Regions from separate parts of the Homo sapiens genome. Here all the other regions are linked to region 2. Evidence: fine-mapped expression QTL. A gene starts in region 2. Each other region holds a variant in brackets. All regions are shown on one strand. Distances are between the middles of the regions. Region 1 holds the start of KCNA6 (potassium voltage-gated channel subfamily A member 6). Region 2 holds the start of GALNT8 (polypeptide N-acetylgalactosaminyltransferase 8). Region 3 overlaps GALNT8 (polypeptide N-acetylgalactosaminyltransferase 8).

Region 1 (7,167 bases), 86 kb after region 2:
AGTTCAAGATATCTGACTTCTTTTTAATGTAACTCTCAGATGACCAAATTTTTGGTGTGTGTGTGTGTGTGTGTGTGTGTGTGTGTAGAAGGAGGGGAACAAAAGGAAAACAGCAAAAATTGACTGCAAAGTATAGAATTACCCGGTCATCCATTTTTCTCCCCTTCTTCCCCAGGATTCAATGCTGTCTTCTCTCTCCAGCAGAAAAAGTAGGAGAAGGTTAAGAGAAGGAGTAAACATGACCCAGACCCTGGGGAAAGGGGTGAATGAGGGGACCAGAGAAGGGAGTTGGGCCAGGCAGAACGCTGTGTTTGGACAGAGGAGCTTCCACTTGGAACACGCTGAAGAACCAAAGCTCGAGGGCAGAGCCTTGCCCAGAGTGAGATGGTGAGAGGAGGGACACGGGCTCAGACTCATCACCCCTGCTTCTCACTGGCTCTGAGTGGTTTGGATTCCACAGTGGAAAGCTCAAGAGTGGGGTGGGTCATTCTAGGGAGGGTGTTCCGTGCTTGTGCACAAGTGTTGTGTTCTCTCAGTAAGAGGTAAGGGAGCTGACGACTCGCCACCCTGTCCTCAGAGCAGGGGCCTGTGGGTGACAGGACCATGAGGAGAACCATTTTCAGAGGTTACACAGAGAAAGAGGAAAACTTCAGGGATCGTATTACCAGAATGATGACAAGTGCACACACACACACACACACACACAGCAAAATAAAAATGTAAAGAAGCCTGGAAGACAGATCATTTATGTCATTTATATACCTGGAATAGGTACATTTTAGAACCTAGGGCAGAGGTCAGAATATAAATGGTTATCACACAATGCTTCACATTATCTGTGCTCATCTTGTGGGCACATACGTCCATTCTTAGGTGGTTCTTCCCATGGATGCCCCCCACGTACTCCTGACCTGTTGCAGATCATGTGTTCCACTGGAAGGCCAGCGTGGGCCCAGGAGGATGGGGCCCCTGGGGTCTAGTCCTGGTTGTTGGTTTCCAGGAGCTCTCCATCTCTTGGCTTTCCTTTGACTTCACCTACAACCCCTCAGCCTCCTATGCTGGCTGCCCTTCCTCCTGACCTTGACCGGTAGATTGAAGACTGCTGTGAAGGACTTGGTCCTGGTCATTTCTCCTCGTTGTCCATATTCTGTTTCTGCAGAAGACCTTGGTGCCATGAATGTATATATTTCTAGATGTCTTAAATTCATAAATCGTAAGTTTCTTTTTCATATTCCAGACCTAAATAAATAACTGCCTCCTTGATGTCTTAATTTGCATGTATAATTTCCCTCTCCAATGTAAAACATCTAAAGGTGAGGTCTTGACGCATCCCAACTTGTTTAACCCCTTGTCTTCCCTTTCTCAGTAAAGGGCGACACCTACCTGCCTAGTTGCTTGAGCTTGGCATTGGCTGCTTATTTCTCATGTTTTATTGATGACTAATTCCTGCTGATTCTATCATCTAAACATACCTCCTCAGTTCTCCTCACCTCCTCTCCACTCTATCTCTACTGACTCTACCTTTCTCTGGCCCAAGTCACCATCATCTTTTCCCCAGACGACTGCAATTTCCTGGTCTTTCTATTTCTTCTTCTACCTCTTCATAATTCATTCCCCTCCCAGCCTCTAAGTAAATCACATCACGTCTCTCCTCTGCTTGAAAACCATCATTGGCTTCATACCGCCCTTAAGATAAAACCTGAACACCTCACCCTATAAGATGGTACCCTTGCTAATTCTTCAATCTTATCTTGCACCTCCCTTTCCCTTGCCCATTCTCCTCCCAGCGCACGGCCTTCTTTTTGACCTTGAACACCCATGACCTTTCTAGCTCAGGGCTTTTGCACTTGTCAGTCTGGAATGCTCTTCCCTGCATTTGGCACTGTGGCCCCATTCTCTTATCTATTTTTGAGACAGAATCTCCCTCTGTCACCCAGGCTGGAGTGCAGTGGTACAATCTCGGCTCACTGCAACCTCCACCTCCCAGGTTAAAGCGATCCTCCTGCCTCAACCTCCCAAGTAGCTGGGACTACACGTGCCCTCCACCATGCCCAGATAATTTTTGCATTTTTAGTAGAGACAGAGTTTTGCCATGTTGGTCAGACTGGTCTTGAACTCCTAACCTCAGGTGATCCACCTGCCTCAGCCTCCCAAAGTGCTGGGATTACAGGCATGAGCCACCGTGCCAGGCTCCATTCTCCTCTTTGGATTGTCAGTTGAAATACTACCTCTTCAGAGGGAACTTTTCCAGCTACCCTTGCAAAGTTGAGTCCCCAAGTTCATTTCTGACATGGCATCCCATTTATCCTCCTCAAGGCATTTACTGCAATATGGAATTATTTTCCTTATTGTCTACTGTTAAAATTTTCTGTCTATAATGTAATTTATTACATGAAAATGTATGCTTATCAAAGCAGATATTTTGTATAGATCACTGCTAAATCCTCAGCACCTGGCACCATGCTGGCACTCAGTAGCTGCTCAATATATACTTTTTAAATAAATGAATGATTGCTATGACCATGGCAAACATCTGAATCTGGATACAACAACAAAAAATAACAACAAAATCTGTGCTGGCATGAAATTGGTGCTTGGTGAATGCTGGGGAAAAATCCCCTGCCATTGGAAGCCACTTGGCAGTGTTTATGGATGGAGCTGTGTCTTCCTTCACCTGGGAACTGGCATTTCTGAAGGTGTGATTGTACTCATCCTTAACATACGCTTGGGGGGAATGATCTAGGCATAGGGTTTTTCTTAAGCTAAGAAATGAGTCTATTTCACAAAAGAACTAAAAACAGAACTCTGATTCATGAATTTGCCAATGGCTTGTCCTTCTCAGGGGAACCTCCCTGGGCACAGTGAAACCCTTCTTGGGGCACGACCTCATGCTTGATGTGAAGGTCATCACAGAACATCAGCTCTGCCTGAAGGGTGGCCGGCAGCCCAGTCAGGCTTAACCCGAGGGGTACTCAAACGGAGGTTCTTGACACCTTATCAGGGTGTGTACGCTTCTGCAGAACGAAGGTTCCTTCCCATGCTTTGCCAGGATTGGTTTTGAAGAATTACTGACCTAGTTGACAGTCTCGTGAATAAAAATGGCAATGATGAAAACAAACCTGCAAATGAATCATTCATTATGAATTTGAAAACAAAAACAAAAAGAATCAGGGGTTAGTCAATTTATGACTCAGAAAATAATGACAGATAACTGGATAAGGGTAAAGTGACAGATAACTGGATGGGGGTAAAGAGTATCTTCTATAGTGTATTTGCTGTTGGTTTCCTTTTTTTTCTTTTCTTTCAAAAAGATTTTTTAAACAGAGCAACTTTTGTGTGGAGTCTAAATGGCTTAATTACATAGTCTGTAAGTGAGAAAACTCCGCTGGATGACTCCATGTACTTGCTTTCTCTCCCTTCACGGAAACATGCAAGGTGAGAGAAAGGAGTGGAAATGAGACAGGCAAGCATGAGATGGGCAAGCTGGCTGCTTTCCTGTTGTGATGTGGTTTGGAGAAAAAAGAACAAAAGCCCTTTACTCAAGCTGTAACTCCCAGCCAGTCAGCATCAAAGGCCCAAGAAGCTATTAACCACAAATTAATTAACCCCTTGCTTTAGAGAACTAAGGACCTTTCTGAGGCCCTACGTGCCTAGCTAGGCTTAACTTTCACCTCATCATGAACTTTTCCTTATTTTAGTACTAAAAATCATGCCCACAGGTGGAGATTTAAGATGCTAATGAGACATATGTTGTATGAAGCAGCATCTTAAGCCACCGTACATGTGCCCGAAAAACCTCACCTCTACATGCCCTGACTTCCCCTTACTGCAGACCTCCACAAAGGGAACCCACACCTTGACTTTGGAGAGCAACCCACTTCCTTTCTTGGTGTTTGGTCCCTTATGTCCATAAGCTTTCATAAAATCTTTCTCTTTGCTACTGTATGCTGTGATCTCTTTTGATTTCTATCCTGGGGGATCAAAAAAGCCCACAGGGCGTTGGTGCCAGAAATCAGCTGTGCAAGCACAGAAAGGGAGCAGAGGCTGTTGCCTGGCTCAACTGGTGAGGAGCAAGACTGGAGAATGAGCATGCAGTGAGTTCTAATACTAGCACATTTCTTACCCACTCAACACCTGATCCCTTCCCGACACATCCAGGAGCCTTGGTTCTCTCCTTCCTCCAACTCTCTGAGAGTGAATGCTGCTGAGAACCACTGTGGTTTTAAAATACTCCGTGCAATACAAAGAACTCTCAGATGCATCCTGTGGTTTGAGAGCACCTTTATGTGTCATTCTCATCATTAACCTCAATGAATGCATACTAATGATCTAATATGCACCAGAAGCTACACAAAAACACTTTGTAGTTGTTAGCCAATTCATTTTGGCTACAGCCAGCCAGAAAAGAGGAAAC[T/C]GAGGCACAGAGAAGCAAATGTCAACCCTACCTGGAAGTGTCAGTCTGAAAAGATCAGTTGAGTCTTCCTCTACCAGACCCCAACTTGTCTGGTCTCGTGAAGAAAGACAGAAATGGATGGAAAACCATTCTTATCACCTTCTTGCTGGAGAGTTAGGGAAGAGTCAGCTGGTCCCTAACAACAAACTTTGCCCTACTCCAGTACTGCCAAAGGGGTCTTTGTTGTAACATGGCCTACAAGGAGAGGACATCTTTCTGGGAAAGCACCTAGAATGTGGCTGGCACATATTCAATGCCCAGTAAATGTAGCTATTATTTTTTCAATCAACACTCTTACATACCCCTTTTCCACTCACCCTCTTCTCCCTTTTTTTGGTCACCCAATAAGCAGAAATTCCAGATGCATCCTTCGGGGTGGTTGGGAGCAAAGGATCCCCAGGGTGCACTGTGCCCTGGGCTGAGGTATCTCTGAGGTGCTTCCATCTTCTGGGTCCTTCCTCACTGGGGTTGTTGCCTCAGGCTCTCAGGACTCCCCTGGAAATCTTCTGATGGGAAAGGCATTGATTGACTTGCCACCCTTTCTCTACCATCCCTTTGCAATTCTGGGAGAGTTGCAGCCCCGCCCTCCCAGGCTTGCAAAGGTAGACGGAGAATTATATTGGAATTTAAATCGGAAGCTCTCAAGGCATCTCAAAAATACTTTCTCTATTTTTTTTTTCCTGTAGATATTGGAGAGGTTGGCAAACGGGTCTTCCTGAAGACAGAAGAATGTATGATTTAATGTTTTCTTTAGATTTCTGTATGAGTGGATGCACAGTGCTCCGTATTGTGTGGTGGGGCGGGGTGTGTCTTCTTATTGATGAAATACACTGCGCAGGTCAACTCGGTAAATTGAAATGAGAAGAGCCGACTGCGGGGGTGGAGGGGGTGTGGTATTAGGGTGCCGGCGCTTGTGGAGGGGGGCGCGAATGTGAACGTGTGAAAGCGAGAGGCGTGCCAGGAGAGCGCGGGAAAGCTTACTGGTGAGGCAAGTGTGCGTCTATTTCCATGGCGCCCTGGCTCGCGGCAGCCCCTGGCTGGGCGAGGGGTGTGATGTGGGAGTGGGGTGGGAGGGGGCAGCAGGCGGGGCCTGCCACGTCACTTGGAGAGTGTGTGTTGGGAAGGAAGGGCAGAGCGGAGAGCCGAGCCGCTGCAGCTGCGGCGGCGGCAGCGAAGCCTTGAGCCGTGGGGAGGTGGGTCCCCGCGCTCGGGCGCCGGGGCAGCCCCGGGCCCTCTGCGAGGCCTGCGGCGCGGCTCCTAGGGAGGAGGTGGCGGCTGTGGCGGCCGGAACCGCGACCTTGGCCGGACCCAGCCCCGCGGTGGACGCAGGGCGGAGGCCGAGCCCCGCCAGGAGTCTTTGCCGAGCCGGAGGGAGGCGCATCTGGCGCTTCGGTACCAGCGGCAGCCGGGGGTCCGGAGCGGCTGGAGGAGCGCAGTGGGAACTGGGAAGAGCTAGCCCGGCTGGAGGGCGGACCTCTGCGTCCGGGAGCCGGGTCTCAGGCACCGCTGGGGGCGAAGCCACGCGTCTTTTCGGGCAGCCAATTTCACACGCGCCTGTGTGCGGTTCCGGGCATCCCAGTAAGCTCTAGCACCCGGGCGCGGGTAACGGGAAGCGCAGAACCAAATCCCCAGCGCCCAGGTCACCTCCCCAGACCCAGCCTTGCAGGGACCAGGGCTTTAGGGCTCACGGACCCAACGGCCAGGTCAGACCGCGAACCGGGAGGAGCGCGGGCCCCACCCTAAAGAGGGCGCAGCCGGGAGCTGGGGAGCGGGTGCCGCGCTCCAGAGATTGTGTCGTGGGCGCCGTCCTAGTGGCGGGGAGCGCACCTCCGAGGGGGCATGAGATCGGAGAAATCCCTTACGCTGGCGGCGCCGGGGGAGGTCCGTGGGCCGGAGGGAGAGCAACAGGATGCGGGAGACTTCCCGGAGGCCGGCGGGGGCGGGGGCTGCTGTAGTAGCGAGCGGCTGGTGATCAATATCTCCGGGCTGCGCTTTGAGACACAATTGCGCACCCTGTCGCTGTTTCCGGACACGCTGCTCGGAGACCCTGGCCGGCGAGTCCGCTTCTTCGACCCCCTGAGGAACGAGTACTTCTTCGACCGCAACCGGCCCAGCTTCGACGCCATCCTCTACTACTACCAGTCTGGGGGCCGCCTGCGGAGGCCGGTCAACGTGCCCCTGGACATTTTCCTGGAGGAGATCCGCTTCTACCAGCTGGGGGACGAGGCCCTGGCGGCCTTCCGGGAGGACGAGGGCTGCCTGCCCGAAGGTGGCGAGGACGAGAAGCCGCTGCCCTCCCAGCCCTTCCAGCGCCAGGTGTGGCTGCTCTTTGAGTACCCAGAGAGCTCTGGGCCGGCCAGGGGCATCGCCATCGTCTCCGTGTTGGTCATTCTCATCTCCATAGTCATCTTTTGCCTGGAGACCTTACCCCAGTTCCGTGTAGATGGTCGAGGTGGAAACAATGGTGGTGTGAGTCGAGTCTCCCCAGTTTCCAGGGGGAGTCAGGAGGAAGAGGAGGATGAAGACGATTCCTACACATTTCATCATGGCATCACCCCTGGGGAAATGGGGACCGGGGGCTCCTCCTCACTCAGTACTCTTGGGGGCTCCTTCTTTACAGACCCCTTCTTTCTGGTGGAGACGCTGTGCATTGTCTGGTTCACTTTTGAGCTCCTGGTGCGCTTCTCCGCCTGCCCTAGCAAGCCGGCCTTCTT
Region 2 (6,493 bases):
TGACACCTGGTGGGGAGGGCTGCCTCATTACTGATGGGTGAGGGAGGGAGTTCAGGTTCCCCACTAGCCCTCTGCTGACACCACACTGGCTGAAAAGGGGAGGGCCACTGTTCCTTTACTGATATCATGTGGGGACAATGACAAAAATGCCAGCTCCCCAAGAGACCTTCACTGACACACCCTGGAGGGGAAGGTGGGGGATGCAGGGGCAAACCCTCACAGCTGGGGTGAGGTTGGAAGTCTAGGCTCCCCACGAGGCCTCTGTGGATGTGGTGGGCATGGCACTGCAAGGTTTTCAGTGGCATTTGGCTGGAGTAGGGCAGTTGTTGTCTAAACATCTTCTGTCTTGCTAGGCTTCCCATTTCCTGTTTCTTTGGTTAGAGAAAGCAGCTTTTTCTTGGGGCTTCTATTGTCTCTGCCCATTGCATTTCCAAGTTGTTGACTGCTCCAGCATCCAGCAACTTGGAATCTATTTCCTACAATAGCTAGGATATCTGGAGATCTCTAGTCAGCCTGCCCTGTTCTCTCTACCTTTCAGAGTCTTCTTAGGTTTGTTTTACATATCATGTGTACTTTTTACTTGCCTTGATGGGAAGGAATAGAGAAGATAAATGTAGGTATTTCTTCTTGTCCCAGAAGCAGAAGGGTTATGCTTTTTTGTTTGTTTGTTTTTTGTAGTTGTTGTTGTTGTTGTTTGAGATGGAGTTTTGTTCTTGTTGCCCAGGCTGGAGTGCAGTGGCGCGATCTCGACTCACTGCAACCTCCGCCTCCTGGGTTCAAGCGATTTTCCTGCCTCTGCCTCCCAAGTCGCTCGGATTACAGGTGCCTGCCACCATGCCCAGCTAATTTTGTTATTTTTAGTAGAGATGGCGTTTCACCATGTTGGCCAGGCTGGTCTTGAACTCCTGACCTCAGGTGATCCACCTGCCTCGGCCTCCCAAAGTGCTGGGATTACAGGCGTGAGCCACTGCGCCTGGCTGGATCATGCGTTTCTTATGTTTTGAGTCTAATTTGCAAGTGGGAGGCTGGGAGACATTTTCTATCCCTGCGAAACAGAAGAAGTGATTCCTTTTCATTTTGTTCATTTTCATCCTGTTTTTCCTAAAGCCACATTACTTTCCTTTAATCCACATGTCCGCCTCAGCACATGTCACCATGTGCTGTGTTTGGGACGTAGTAAATAGTCCAAAGAGCCAGGCCGGGGTGGAAGCTGTGATTTTGACGGGATTGACAGTAGACTGAGAACTTTGAACTTTTAGCCTTGGGGAACAATTTTATGTGTTTATTCTACAATGATGATCACTGGTGATTTGTCCAAAACATATTATAAGTGTGAGGTGTGGAGGCAAAGGAGTTACTGGAAGCTGGGGCAGGGCAGAAGCCCAGTGTATGAAGTTGTGCAGAGGACAAGCAAAGGACAGAGACCAGTGAATCGGAGTCATCCCCTGAGGCTCAACCCCGGGCACCGCCTCCAGCTCTTCTCCACCTGCTTCTAGGCAGTGAAGTCCTAGGAACTAGCAAGAAAGTCTGTCCTTAAGTTTGTGGGACAAGCATTTGTTGCACACCTACTATGTCCAAAACCCTGTAGAGTTAGGTAAAAAGACATCTTAGATCCCAGCTCTCCAAAAAAGCAAGGATCTAAGTGTACAGAGACTTCTTGCTTCGTGATTTCTTCTTCATCCTATTTATCCCCTTCTTATACCCACAGGACCAGACCTCACATGCCCTATCAGAGTCTCCCAGGTGGTTTTTCCAGGGAGAGAGAACATTAAACATCAAACAAACATATATAGAGAAAAGCCTCTCACCCAGGCAGCCTGAGCTAGCTGCAGGAGCAAGCATTCTTCTGACTTCTGAGACAGTACAAGGTGTGTCCAGGTGACTTACCTGTCACTGGGCAGCTGCCATGCGCACTCCTCACACCTGACGCTGCTCAGGGAGAAGCCAGGCAGCTATAATAGTGTTCTTGGCCGGAGAACATCTGGCCTAGCAGGCAGGGTGTCATCTATGAAGCTGGGTGGAGAGAAAGCTGTTGGGGAAACCAGCCCCACACCACCCAGCGGATACCCCGAGTCCGGCGGAGACAAAGGAGTTAGAAAGAGACAGAACAAGCGTTTAAAAGGCAGGTCCAGGGGACCAGAGCGTTGGAGGCTTGCTCACGGCCCAGAGCTCTGGGCTCCACCCAATTTATTGGTTTACAAGCTCTTTGTTCTTAGGGCAGATGGGAAGGGGAGGAAGGGATGAGGAAAAGGATTAATCAGTGAGTCATTCGATAAGATGTGTAACAGTGGCGGTTTCTGTGAATTTCCTTGAGCAAAGGCGTGTGTCTAAACTACTTAAGATCTTTAATGACTGAAATGGGTGGGAGTGGGTTTCAGGAGGAGCCAAGATGTTTGATTATACTCCTCTGCTTCAAGGGAGTGTTATCTCCCTGAGCAACCTGTGGAAAGCCGCTGAGCAACCTGTGGAAAGCCGCTGAGCGGTTATCCTCTCGGGGCATAAAGACAAAGAAGGCAATAAGGAGACTTTGCTCCTCAGAGGCCACCCGTGGCTTCCCATGGGTGTCTCACACAGGGGAGACCAACTCAACTGGCACCTAGAACTCTCTTTCCCACAAAAGCTAGGCTGGTTCTGATTCTTAACCTGCTCCAGCAGTGACACACTCAGTCCCACAGGGAGTGGACGACCCCCAGGAAGAAGATGATGTTTTGGAGGAAACTCCCCAAAGCCCTCTTCATTGGGCTGACTCTGGCCATTGCTGTCAATCTCCTTCTGGTATTTTCTAGCAAGGGGACTTTACAAAACCTGTTTACGGGTGGTCTCCACAGGGAGCTTCCTTTACATCTGAATAAACGCTACGGGGCAGTGATAAAGAGACTCTCCCACTTGGAGGTGGAATTGCAGGATCTGAGTAAGTTTACAATGCTAACCTGGAAGGTGTGTGTGTGGGTGTGTGTGTTTGGGGCACTTAGGAAAAAGGGATATGGAAGGAAAAATGGGTGAGAGGTCACATTTTCATCTCAGTCGCTCATTGAAGCATCTGACACTGAATTCTGTGCCTTCAAATGGGAGATGGGTATTGAGAATGAAGTGAGTAGAAGTGGAAATTAGAGCAAGCAGTATGGGGGAGGTGAGCATGTGTGTGTGTATGCGTGTGTGGGCTTGTGCACATGCATTATCATTATATCTACATATGTGCAGGCAACGAGAAGAATAAGAATCCCAAGGGCCATAGACCTGTCCTTAGGCCTATTGAAGGGGTGGGTTGCACCTCCACACCTGTGGGTGTTTCTCGTTAGGTGGAACGAGAGACTTTGGAAGAGAAAAAGACACAGAAACAAAGTATGTAGAGAGAAATAAGGGGGCCCAGGGGACCAGCGTTCAGCATACGGAGGATCCCGCCAGCCTCTGAGTTCCCTTAGTATTTATTGATCATTCTTGGGTGTTTCTCGGAGAGGGGGATGTGTCAGGGTCATAGGATAATAGTGGAGAGAAGGTCAGCAGATAAACACGTGAACAAAGGTCTCTGCATCATAGACAAGGTAAAGAATTAAGTGCTGTGCTTTAGATATGCATACACATAAACATCTCAATGCCTTAAACAGCAGTATTGCTGCCCGCATGTCCCACCTCCAGCCCTAAGGCGGTTTTCTCCTATCTCAGTAGATGGAATATACAATCGGGTTTTACACCGAGACATTCCATTGCCCAGGGACGGGCAGGAGACAGATGCCTTCCTCTTGTCTCAACTGCAGAAAGGCGTTCCTTCCTCTTTTACTAATCCTCCTCAGCACAGACCCTTTACGGGTGTCGGGCTGGGGGACAGTCAGGTCTTTCCCTTCCCACGAGGCCATATTTCAGATGGTCACATGGGGAGAAACCTTGGACAATACCTGGCTTTCCTAGGCAGAGGTCCCTGTGGCCTTCCGCAGTGTTTTGTGTCCCTGGGTACTTGAGATTAGGGAGTGGTGATGACTCTTAACGAGCATGCTGCCTTCAAGCATCTGTTTAACAAAGCACATCTTGCATAGCCCTTAATCCATTTAACCCTGAGTCGACACAGCACATGTTTCAGGGAGCACGGGGTTGGGGGTACGGTTACAGATTAACAGCATCTCAAGGCAGAAGAATTTTTCTTAGTACAGAACAAAATGGAGTCTCCTATGTCTAGTTCTTTCTACACAGACACAGTAACAATCTGATCTCTCTTTCCTTTCCCCACGCCTATGTGTGGTAGGGGCTGTTGAAGAGAGGTGGCAATCTCTGGGGCAAGGGCCTCGCTTCCATTTTGCGGTGTGCTCCTTTCATGAACTAATGAGGGCTTTGTTAGAGGACCTAAGATCGAATCCTGATGTGCCATTGTGGTTGTGTGACTTTGAGCAAGTGCTTCTCTCTCTCAGCCTCAGGTTCCTGGTCTGTAAATGGAGATGATGATAACAATAGTGATAGTTATCAACCTGACCTAATAGGGTTGTGAAGTAGATGCAGAAGGTGATCTATAAACTGCTCTGTGCCAAATTTTAACCTCCTCATTTAAACTTAAGGGTAAGATTTCAACACATTCTGGGGTTTGTTTGTGATTCCGGCTCACCATGGAAGTCTAATGCCTCTGAATTTTATGTGCCTGTGCATCCAACTTCAGCAAGGGAAGCAGCAATTTCCCCCTGCTCCCAGGTAACAGGGATCAAATGCTGGAACCCCATAGGGAGGTGTTTTATGTGTGGGCAGGGATGTGACTGCCCAGGTGTGTGCACATGGGGCTGGAGTTGGGGAAAGTGTCTTTTAAAATGAGAACTGAGCATTGTCAGGGTTCAGGGTGAGGCTGGGAGATGGGTGGAAGGAAAGGCAGGAAGAGAAAAAGGAAGGGAGAGAAGAAATCAGGGAAAGAGCGAGGAGAGTGAGAAGGGAGATGAGAGAGGAGAAAAGAGCTGGGACAGGAAAGGAGCAGAGAAGTGAGGGAGTCCAGGGAGAGAGAGTGAAAGAGTTTGTATGGAGACAAGAAGAAAAGAAGGGAAAGTGTGATGGGAGAGAAGGAGAGAATAAAAGGAGAGAGGAGGAGTCCTAAGGCACCCATAGCACCTTCCACGTCCTCCTTCATAAGACTCATCATATTTTATTATGGTACAGTTTTATGGAAAGCAAGTTTCATAAGTGCTGTTTCCATGAACGTCTCATTCACTACTCATTTCTATTCATACATCGAAATTCCATAGATGAATAAATGAGTGGGTGTGTCTAGGAAAGAGAGAGAAAAAGACAGGCAGACAGGGATGAAGGGAAGAGTGATACGGGGCAAGAGAGTGGATGAAACAGAGGGAAGATCATCAGCTCCACAAGCCCTGGCTTACCTGGGTGGGTCGGACATTGCCCATGCAAATATGCTTGGTGCAGCTTCACCAGGAGGATGCCTGTGTACCTAGGGTGGTGACCCCAGCACCACCCTCACTATTTGGCAGAGCACCCAGACCACACCAGGACTGTCTCACCCATCCCCAAGGCTCATCACACTGGCTCAGCCTCCTCAAGCCGTAAAATGGCAGGAGTTCTACCCAAAGCCCTGCTATTCTTTCCATCAGCTAGGACACAATGTGCCATGAGGAGCCAGCCAGAGCCATCTGGTTTACTCCTCTTTCCTTTTTTGCAAAGATCTTTCTTGTTATTCTTGGTGCTCCCACATTTTATTCGCTCTGAAATGTTGTGATGTCAGAGACTCACTACCACCTGAGTTGAACCTCAAAAAGTCTTCTGGGCCCTGTTTCTAGATCACCAATGCTTTTTTTTTTTTTTTTTTTCCACAGAGCTTCCTATAACTAAAAGCCTGTTTAATTACCCTTCATCCTGTTTGCTCATTGCCTCCAGGATTCCAGGAAGATTTAAAAAAATCAGAAGTCGGCCGGGCGCGGTGGCTCACGCCTGTAATCCTAGCACTTTGGAAGGCCGAGGCGGGTGGATCACGAGGTCAGGAGATCGAGACCATCCTGGCTAACACGGTGAAACCCCGTCTCTAGAAAAATACAAAAAATTAGCTGGGCGTGGTGGCGGGCGCCTGTAGTCCCAGCTACTCGGGAAGCTGAGGCAGGAGAATGGCGTGAATCTGGGAGGTGGAGGTTGCAGTGAGCTGAGATCGTGCCACTGCACTCCAGCCCGGGTGACAGAGCGAGACTCCGTCTCAAAAAAAAAAAAAAAAAAAAAAAAAAATCAGAAGTCAATAAGGATACTTAGTTGAATCATGTAAGCTACCAAGAGCAAATGCAAACAATAATAATTATATCCCTATTGAGGGAGGGATCAATGACTCTAAGCCAGTTTTCTGGAACCTCCCTCAGGGTTCATAAAAGCCCCACTAGGGGAATGTCAATGGATGTGTCTGTTTTGGGGCTTGGAAAGTTTCAGTATAAGTTATGGGGATAACCTAGTGACACTGTATTCATACTACCGGATTGTGCATTTCCTCAAATTGACTTTAGGATGGCCAGGTCCAAACCAGCTCCCA
Region 3 (7,167 bases), 22 kb after region 2:
TGTACCTCTTTTTTTTTTTTTCTTTTTCTTTTTCTTTTTTTTTTTGAGATGGAGTCTTGGTCTGTCACTCAGGCTAGAGTGCAGTGGTGGGATCTCGGCTCACTGCAAGCTCTGCCTACTGGGTCCGCGCCATTCTCCTGCCTCAGCCTCCCGAGTAGCTGGGACTACAGGCACCTACCACCTCACCCAGCTTATTTTTTTGTATTTTTTTAGTAGAGACGAGATTTCACCATGTTAGCCATGATGGTCTCGATCTCCTGACCTCGTGATCCGCCCGCCTCGGCCTCTGAAAGTGCTGAGATTACAGGCGTGAGCCACTGTGCCCGGCCACCTGTGCCCCTCTTATGCACCATGAAGAAGCCTGGGGGCTGAAGCAGAGTCTAGAGAAGGACTCCAGATACCAGGAAGGGACTTAGAGTTGCTCCTTATGAGGAACAGATCACTCTCCCTGGGTCATTAAGCCTGGAGAAAAGAGAGATTTGGGTGCTGACTCTTCATAGTGGCAACAGCTCTTGCCCACAGGGTGCCCGTGCCCCGAGTCTAGCCCACCCAAGGAAGAGATGTGGAAGATAACAGACCTGAGTCCTCACTTTCTGAGTTCATAATCCCGGCTTCTCCTTTGTAAGTGTTAGGTCCTTGGGTAACTCAACGTCTTCATATTCTGATTTTCTTGTACACAAAATATGGATGTTGATAATAATAACCATTTTATGAACTATAGTGAGAATTAAATGAGATCATAATGGCAGCTAACATTGCTTGTTCTAAGCACCTTACGTGTGTTAACTTTTTTTTTTTTTTTTGAGATGGAGTTTCAGTCTTATCATCCAGGCTGGAGTGCAGTGGTGGGATCTCAGCGCACTGCAGCCTCCACCTCCCGGGTTCAAGCAATTCTTCTGCCTCAGCCTCCTGAGTACCTGGGATTATAGGAGTATGCCACCACACCCAGCTGATTTTTGTATTTTTAGTAGAGATGGGGTTTCACCATGTTGGCCAAGCTGGCCTTGAACTCCTGATCTCAGATGGTTTGCCTGCCTCGGCCTCTCAAAGTGCTGGGATTACAGGTGTGAGCCACAGTGCCCAGCCATGTTAACTATTTTAATCATTACAACAACCCTATGAGGAAGGAATCACTTTTTGACCCATTGTGTAGATGTGCAAAACTAAGGCATAGACTGATCAAGGAACTTGTTCAACATCCTACAGCTGGTAAGTGACAGAACTGAGATTTGACCATGAACTTCAGAGTCCAGAGCCCTGGTTCTAACCACTGTGTTCCCGTTATAATACATGAATTATGTAACGCATTTTGCACATGGTAGCCTCTCAGCAATTGTTGGCTCTTAGTTTTATTAATTTTGTGCAACAAATAAAAGAGAGTAGAATTAAGTTACAAAAACTTAGAGGTTTGGTCTAGCAGTAAGGAAGAATTTCTTGACTATAAGGGCTATGAAGTGGCAGCTCATTGGAGGCAGAATATGTTCCTTCTCTGAGGATCTTTAAGTACCAGATAGGTTATTGTACCTTCCTGAGAGAGCAAACAAAATGACTGCTTAAACCTTCTTTTTTAGACTTCCACACTAAAAATACTTATATTCATCCTTTGCATACCTTCCTCTTTTTTTATTTCCAATGTAACTAAACAAAAAATAAGAAGGTACAATTTTTAGAGCAAAATTCCGCTGAAAACCAAAGAAAAGAGACTAGTTTCATTCATTTCTGGGCATGGAGACTGGTACTGAATTGCACACCTGGTTTTCTGCCCCAAAAATAGGAGCATGATTAGAAAGACCTCTGCCTTGGACTTCTGAAAACACTCTGGCTCTGCTCCCTGCCTGAGACAACGTCAGGCAAGTCCCCTCACCTCTTTGGGACTCAGGGTCTTCATGAGGCAAAGACAAGAGTTGAGCTGGAATATTGTGAAAGATATCTTTTTCTGTGGAAAAAAAAAAAGTCAATACTATACTCTATGGCCTATACGCTATGTTCCATGGGGTGTAGATAAGACTTAATTCAGGATTTTTTCCTGTGGAACAATGCAATAAAAAAATACAAGATTACAAACACGGGGTAGACACATAAAGAAAAACCAAAGCTTTCTTATTGCTCTAAGCTGCACTCCATTGTAACACATTCCTCTCATTTAGGTCTGAAACCCACGTTTGTTTTTCACAGAGATGATTTGTTTGGATGGTCACAGAAAAGGGGACTGTCAGCCATTCTTTGGTGTTACAGGGACAGGAATTAGAGAGTCTCTGTCATTAACCACGAAAACACCAGCCAAATTGAGCCTACACTGAGCATAACTCAAATATCTGTTTTATGTTAAACAGGAGAATAAATGGAAGTCTCTACCATGTCTACTGAAAGAGAAACTCACTATCCATGTGAATTTGGGGGCAAGTGACTCAACCACTTCTCACCTCAGTTTCTGCATCTGTAACATCAGGGAATAATGGTGCCTACCTGATAGGACCACTTTTGGGATTAAATAATACGTGTAAAGGCCTCAGGAGAGAGCCTGTTCCCATTACATGCTAGCTAGTGTTCTGCTCCTCACCTATCTCAGTGTTATTTGTAGTACTTTTGAAATGCCACAACCTGGTGCCAGAGGTTTGCCTCCTTTCTGTCTTTCCCTAGATGTTAAGCTTTATTCACATCACTCAAATATTTTGAGCTTAAATGTTAAATGTCACTCAAATGTTATGTGAGATGTAAGCTTTTTAAAAATTATATCAAGGTAGGTGGAATGCTGTATTTTCTCCCTAATTTTAGGAAAATTTCACAATCAACAACTACATGTTGAGTTTCTACCATGTGCTAGCCACTGGGCAGGGAGGAGGATGTCAGAGAGTTCAAGTTTCCTTCTTAATTAATGAGGCAAGACACATCTGTGGAAAGATACCTTAATGTGTGAAGAATAACGTGACAAACCGAGTGAACCGTCAGTGAGCAAAAGAAAGCACGGTGTGGGGGTGTGGGGTGTGGTGATCTAAGGAGGGTTCCTGGAGGAGGCAGGCTCGGATTGGGACTTGAAGGCGTCATAGGATTTGAGACAGCAGAGAAAATGAGGGAAGACTGGGAAACTGGGTCGGGGTGGAGAGCTAGGGAGCGCCGAAGGAATGGTGTGAACAAAAGTGAGGAATCCGGAAGCGCCCTGAGCTGACCAGCCTGGGATAGCAGGCTTTGGGGAGGAGACCGGTAGGAGGGCAAAGCTGGGAAGGGAGCATAGGTTGTCTTCAGAAAACCCGTCGAGGCGTCCTTAATCTTTGTGCTATATGATAGGCATTATTTTTCAGGAGGTGACTCAGAATCTATGGCTCATAAAAATTTGGAGTTGGAAGGGTCCTGACTATTTGGTACTTTTCTTGAAATTTTTAATATTTGTTTTTCTAAAAAAGAGACAGTCTCACTCTGTTGCCGAGGCTGGCCTCAATCGCCTGGGCTTAAGCACTGATCTGCCTCAGGCTCCCAAAGTGCTGGGATTACAGGCATGAGCCACCATGCCCACTATGGTACTTTTCTCTAGGTTGAGGAATCAGACACATCCAATGGGAAGTGACACAGGATGATGTAGTGACTGAATTAGAATCTAGATATTCAGGTTCAGTGGCGCCTCCTGTGGATTACTGACTAAAAGTAGTGCCTGGGTAAGTGTACAGACTGGCAACCTTGGCTACCCCAGCTTACTCCCAGAGGAAGCAAACAGCCTTAGACGTACTGGCCCTGCTTAGCACCTTCAATAATTGAGACAATTACTCTTGAGTGCAGCAGATCTAAAATGGGGTAAATTTTACTGCCATAGTCACTTAGGTGTTGATTCCAGGTCTTGATCACTCTAGGTCTCACAAATATGCT[C/T]GTCTTTTGAGAGAGGAACTGGCAAGAATCTCGTTCCTTGGCTATGGGGAGAGAGGAGAGGGAGGGAGGACTTGGTAAACCCAACCAGGTACTCACAGAGTTCTTGAGACACGGTGTTCTGGTGGCTAAACACAGCATAGGTTCACATCCAGGGCGTGCCACTTACTAGATATGTGACTTGGAAAAGTTTTTAAAACTCTTTGTGCCTCAGTTTCTTTATCTGTAAAGTGGGGATATTGTAGTGCCTACCACATGAGATACTTTCAGAATTAACTGAATTAATTTTATCAATGAGTAACTCAGAGTCATTTGGTTAGATATTTTGCATACTGCTAAGTGATTTGCCTGCAAGTGGTTTACTTACACGTGAGGAAGTCAGTGGTAGGCTGAGCCCAAGAACAAAGCCATAGACAAGCTTTATTAAAAGAGAGGGAAGAGAGGGAAGAAAACTACCTGTAAACAATCTAGGAATAGTGAATCTTGTTTGCATAATTTTTGGGCTAAATTTACTAGCTAGAAGCTGGCAAAGAGATTAATCTGTGCATTCTGTCCCAGTTGGTCCTTAAGTAGGTCAACTGGGAATATCTAAAACAAAACAATTTTAGTCATTTATGGATTCTCCAGAGTTTTGAGAGTTTAGCTATGAAGATGTTCCAGGCCTTCCTGCAGTGTTTTCCATCAACCTGTGCACCTTAGGCTAGATCTGTCCACTCATTCTCTCAAGAACTTCTCAACGTGAAAAAGCACTTATAACAGTGCCTGACACGTAGTAAGCAGTATTATCATTTTAAGATAGTTTAACTGTCAGGGAAAGGACATTAGGAATGATCACAGTACACCTCAGGTGCAAGGGAGAAGAGAGGCAGGTGCAGGGGAAATACTACTTATTTTCTAGTTGACTCTTAGAATTGCCCATTTTATGCTGGAGGTAGTCCAGCCACTAATATATGATAGTATAAAACTTTTGTATCACGTTGATTGTTGCACTCAGAATTTCTATAGGTGTGCACTTGATTGACAGGAGAACTAAAGGTACACTTGGATGAGAAGATTAAGCTTTACAACCAGAAGTATCCAGGACTACTGAAAATAATACGGCATCCTGAAAGGAAAGGTCTTGCTCAAGCCCGCAACACTGGCTGGGAAGCTGCCACAGCAGACGTGGTCGCCATCTTGGATGCTCACATTGAAGTCAATGTTGGGTGGTAAGGCTCAAAGAGGCTAGTTCTTCTGGAAAGGGCAGAGAGGAGATATTGTGCATGTACTGAACACAAGACAGGATACTGTGGACACAGGGAAAGTCAGCACCAGGCCTTAAATAAAGGGAATCTCCAAAACAGCATGCTTTTATGCAGGGATTTTGCTTGGCTAAGAGAAGTAGCATGGTGGAGAGTATTGACAGTTGGATCATAATGCTGACTTTGCCAAATACTTTGTGAATTTGAGTAAGTCACTTCACTTAACTAGACATTGTGTCTTTAACTGTAAAGATGAGGAGATTAGCCTTTGGTTATTTTAAAGGTTTTTCCCCAGCCATGAAATTACATAATAAAATAAAGAGAACTATGTTCTTTAGAGAATGTGGAGAATCAGACAGGAAAGAAGCATCACTTTGGAAACGGAGAACCAAGAGATAACGTAAATTCAAGGAGTAATATACATACTGAGAATGCTGCTTCACAACGGCCTGGGGGTGTTACCTGGGTACTAATTTCAAACCTGTTCTCGATGCGGGTTGGCTTCTAGCAGCTTCAGCTATCCCGAAAGGTTACAGAGATTCTCTGGACTCTAGAGAGTTCTACTCACAACCCAGTACAGCCTAAATGGAGGAGGTACTCAATGTCAGGGCAAGGTGCTTGGAACAGCTTTATCTGCTCTCCCCTACTGCTTGTCCTCATATCCAAGCTGGGCTTTCTGCACACTCTTGTTCTAGGGCAGAGCCAATCTTGGCTCGGATTCAGGAGGACCGCACTGTGATTGTGTCTCCTGTGTTTGACAACATTCGTTTTGACACCTTCAAACTGGATAAGTATGAACTGGCAGTTGATGGGTTTAACTGGGAACTCTGGTGCCGCTACGATGCACTGCCACAAGCCTGGATTGATCTGCATGATGTCACTGCCCCAGTGAAGTAAGTCTGAGGAGATTCAGGGAACTTGAGTAGCATGTGGGAAGGCAGGAATGAACTGAATGGATTTTGTTTATCTTTGGTGGTAGTAATTGGGGTGACGTGGAAGGAGGGGAGGGGATGAGGTGAAGGACAAGGGATAGAGGGAAAAAACCCCAATAAGTTATCCCAGTTAAGAAATCACAGACACTTTGGGATATTTAGGGACTTTCAGACAAAAATCAAGCAAAACACTTAAAATTTTGGAAAACATTTGGGCCATTTCAAGCTTTAGCAGACTATGAAGTAAGGATACCTAGAAGAAAAAGGTGTAATTTCAATATATTTTGAGAAGGGTTATGATAACGCAGTGGGCGAGGGAAAGCTACATGCACTTAGTCTTGCCTGAGAGTTTAGGGAAGGCCTTCATGATAAGAACAGACTTAGGTAGAGTTCTGAAGCCCAAATAATCATTGAGCATCCCACCCCTCGCCTCCGCTCCTTATGGAGAGATTAGTGACTCTTGCTGTGTGCTCTGTAGGAGTCCTTCAATCATGGGCATCCTGGCTGCTAACAGGCACTTCCTGGGAGAGATCGGGTCTCTGGATGGTGGAATGCTCATCTATGGAGGAGAGAACGTGGAGCTTAGCCTGAGGGTGGGTACATTTCCCTTTTCTTTATGGGACAAAGCAGAAAGGGGAATAATAGAAAGGTAGTAGGACCCCTGGAATCCTAGAACAAGGCTGAATGTCATTGGCTCAAAGGTGGATACATTCTTATGTTTCTAGGCAACTGGGCCAAGGACGGGGGGCAATAGGACTTCTGGAGTGGACACTCCTGGTATAGCCCATATAATCTGGGAGGTGGGGTGGGAAGGGGTCAAGTTGGGATTGAATAGATAGATGTCCCTATTTCACTTGAGGACTCTGGGCATTTTTCAAGCATCTCCTGGGATAAACTTAACCTTGGAGCAGACAATTCTCTAGAAGGCCAAAGACAGCAAAAACAGGAGTGGGCAGCGTGACTAGGGAATGCAGACGTGTGGGCAGCCAGCCTGCTTCTGTACTCACAGCCAGAGCAGCTGACGTGATAGCCTGAGTTTGTGCTGAGATATAGTCTAATCTAAGACAAATAGCCAGGTTTTTATCATTATATAACTGAAATCCTCAAACCCGGCCAGTTACGGTGGCTCACACCTGTAA

The links. PIP is the estimated chance that this variant, and not a neighbour inherited with it, causes the effect. A credible set is the group of variants that fine-mapping cannot tell apart.
Region 1: its variant is the best candidate, but not a certain one, in a credible set for the expression of GALNT8 in whole blood (INTERVAL, PIP 0.87).
Region 3: its variant is the best candidate, but not a certain one, in a credible set for the expression of GALNT8 in esophagus muscle (GTEx, PIP 0.83).

The regions. Positions count from the first base shown.
Region 1 is chr12:4,803,750-4,810,916 of GRCh38, forward strand. KCNA6 (potassium voltage-gated channel subfamily A member 6) reads left to right here and starts at 5,585. Exons shown (of 1, transcript NM_002235.5): 1 at 5,585-7,167. The coding sequence starts at 6,293. It overlaps KCNA6-AS1 (KCNA6 antisense RNA 1), which reads right to left. Exons shown (of 3, transcript NR_199077.1): 3 at 736-3,119. The variant T/C (reference allele first, on the strand shown) is at 4,415.
Region 2 is chr12:4,717,978-4,724,470 of GRCh38, forward strand. It overlaps GALNT8 (polypeptide N-acetylgalactosaminyltransferase 8), which reads left to right and starts at 2,423. Exons shown (of 11, transcript NM_017417.2): 1 at 2,423-2,911. The coding sequence starts at 2,701. It overlaps GAU1 (GALNT8 antisense upstream 1), which reads right to left and starts at 2,125. Exons shown (of 4, transcript NR_110112.1): 1 at 1,888-2,125. RefSeq lists enhancers at 1,544-2,539, 2,540-3,535, 3,536-4,531.
Region 3 is chr12:4,739,638-4,746,804 of GRCh38, forward strand. GALNT8 (polypeptide N-acetylgalactosaminyltransferase 8) reads left to right here. Exons shown (of 11, transcript NM_017417.2): 4 at 4,880-5,063; 5 at 5,792-5,989; 6 at 6,507-6,621. Among named protein-coding and RNA genes, the nearest start is that of GALNT8, 23 kb to the left of the region's middle. The variant C/T (reference allele first, on the strand shown) is at 3,859.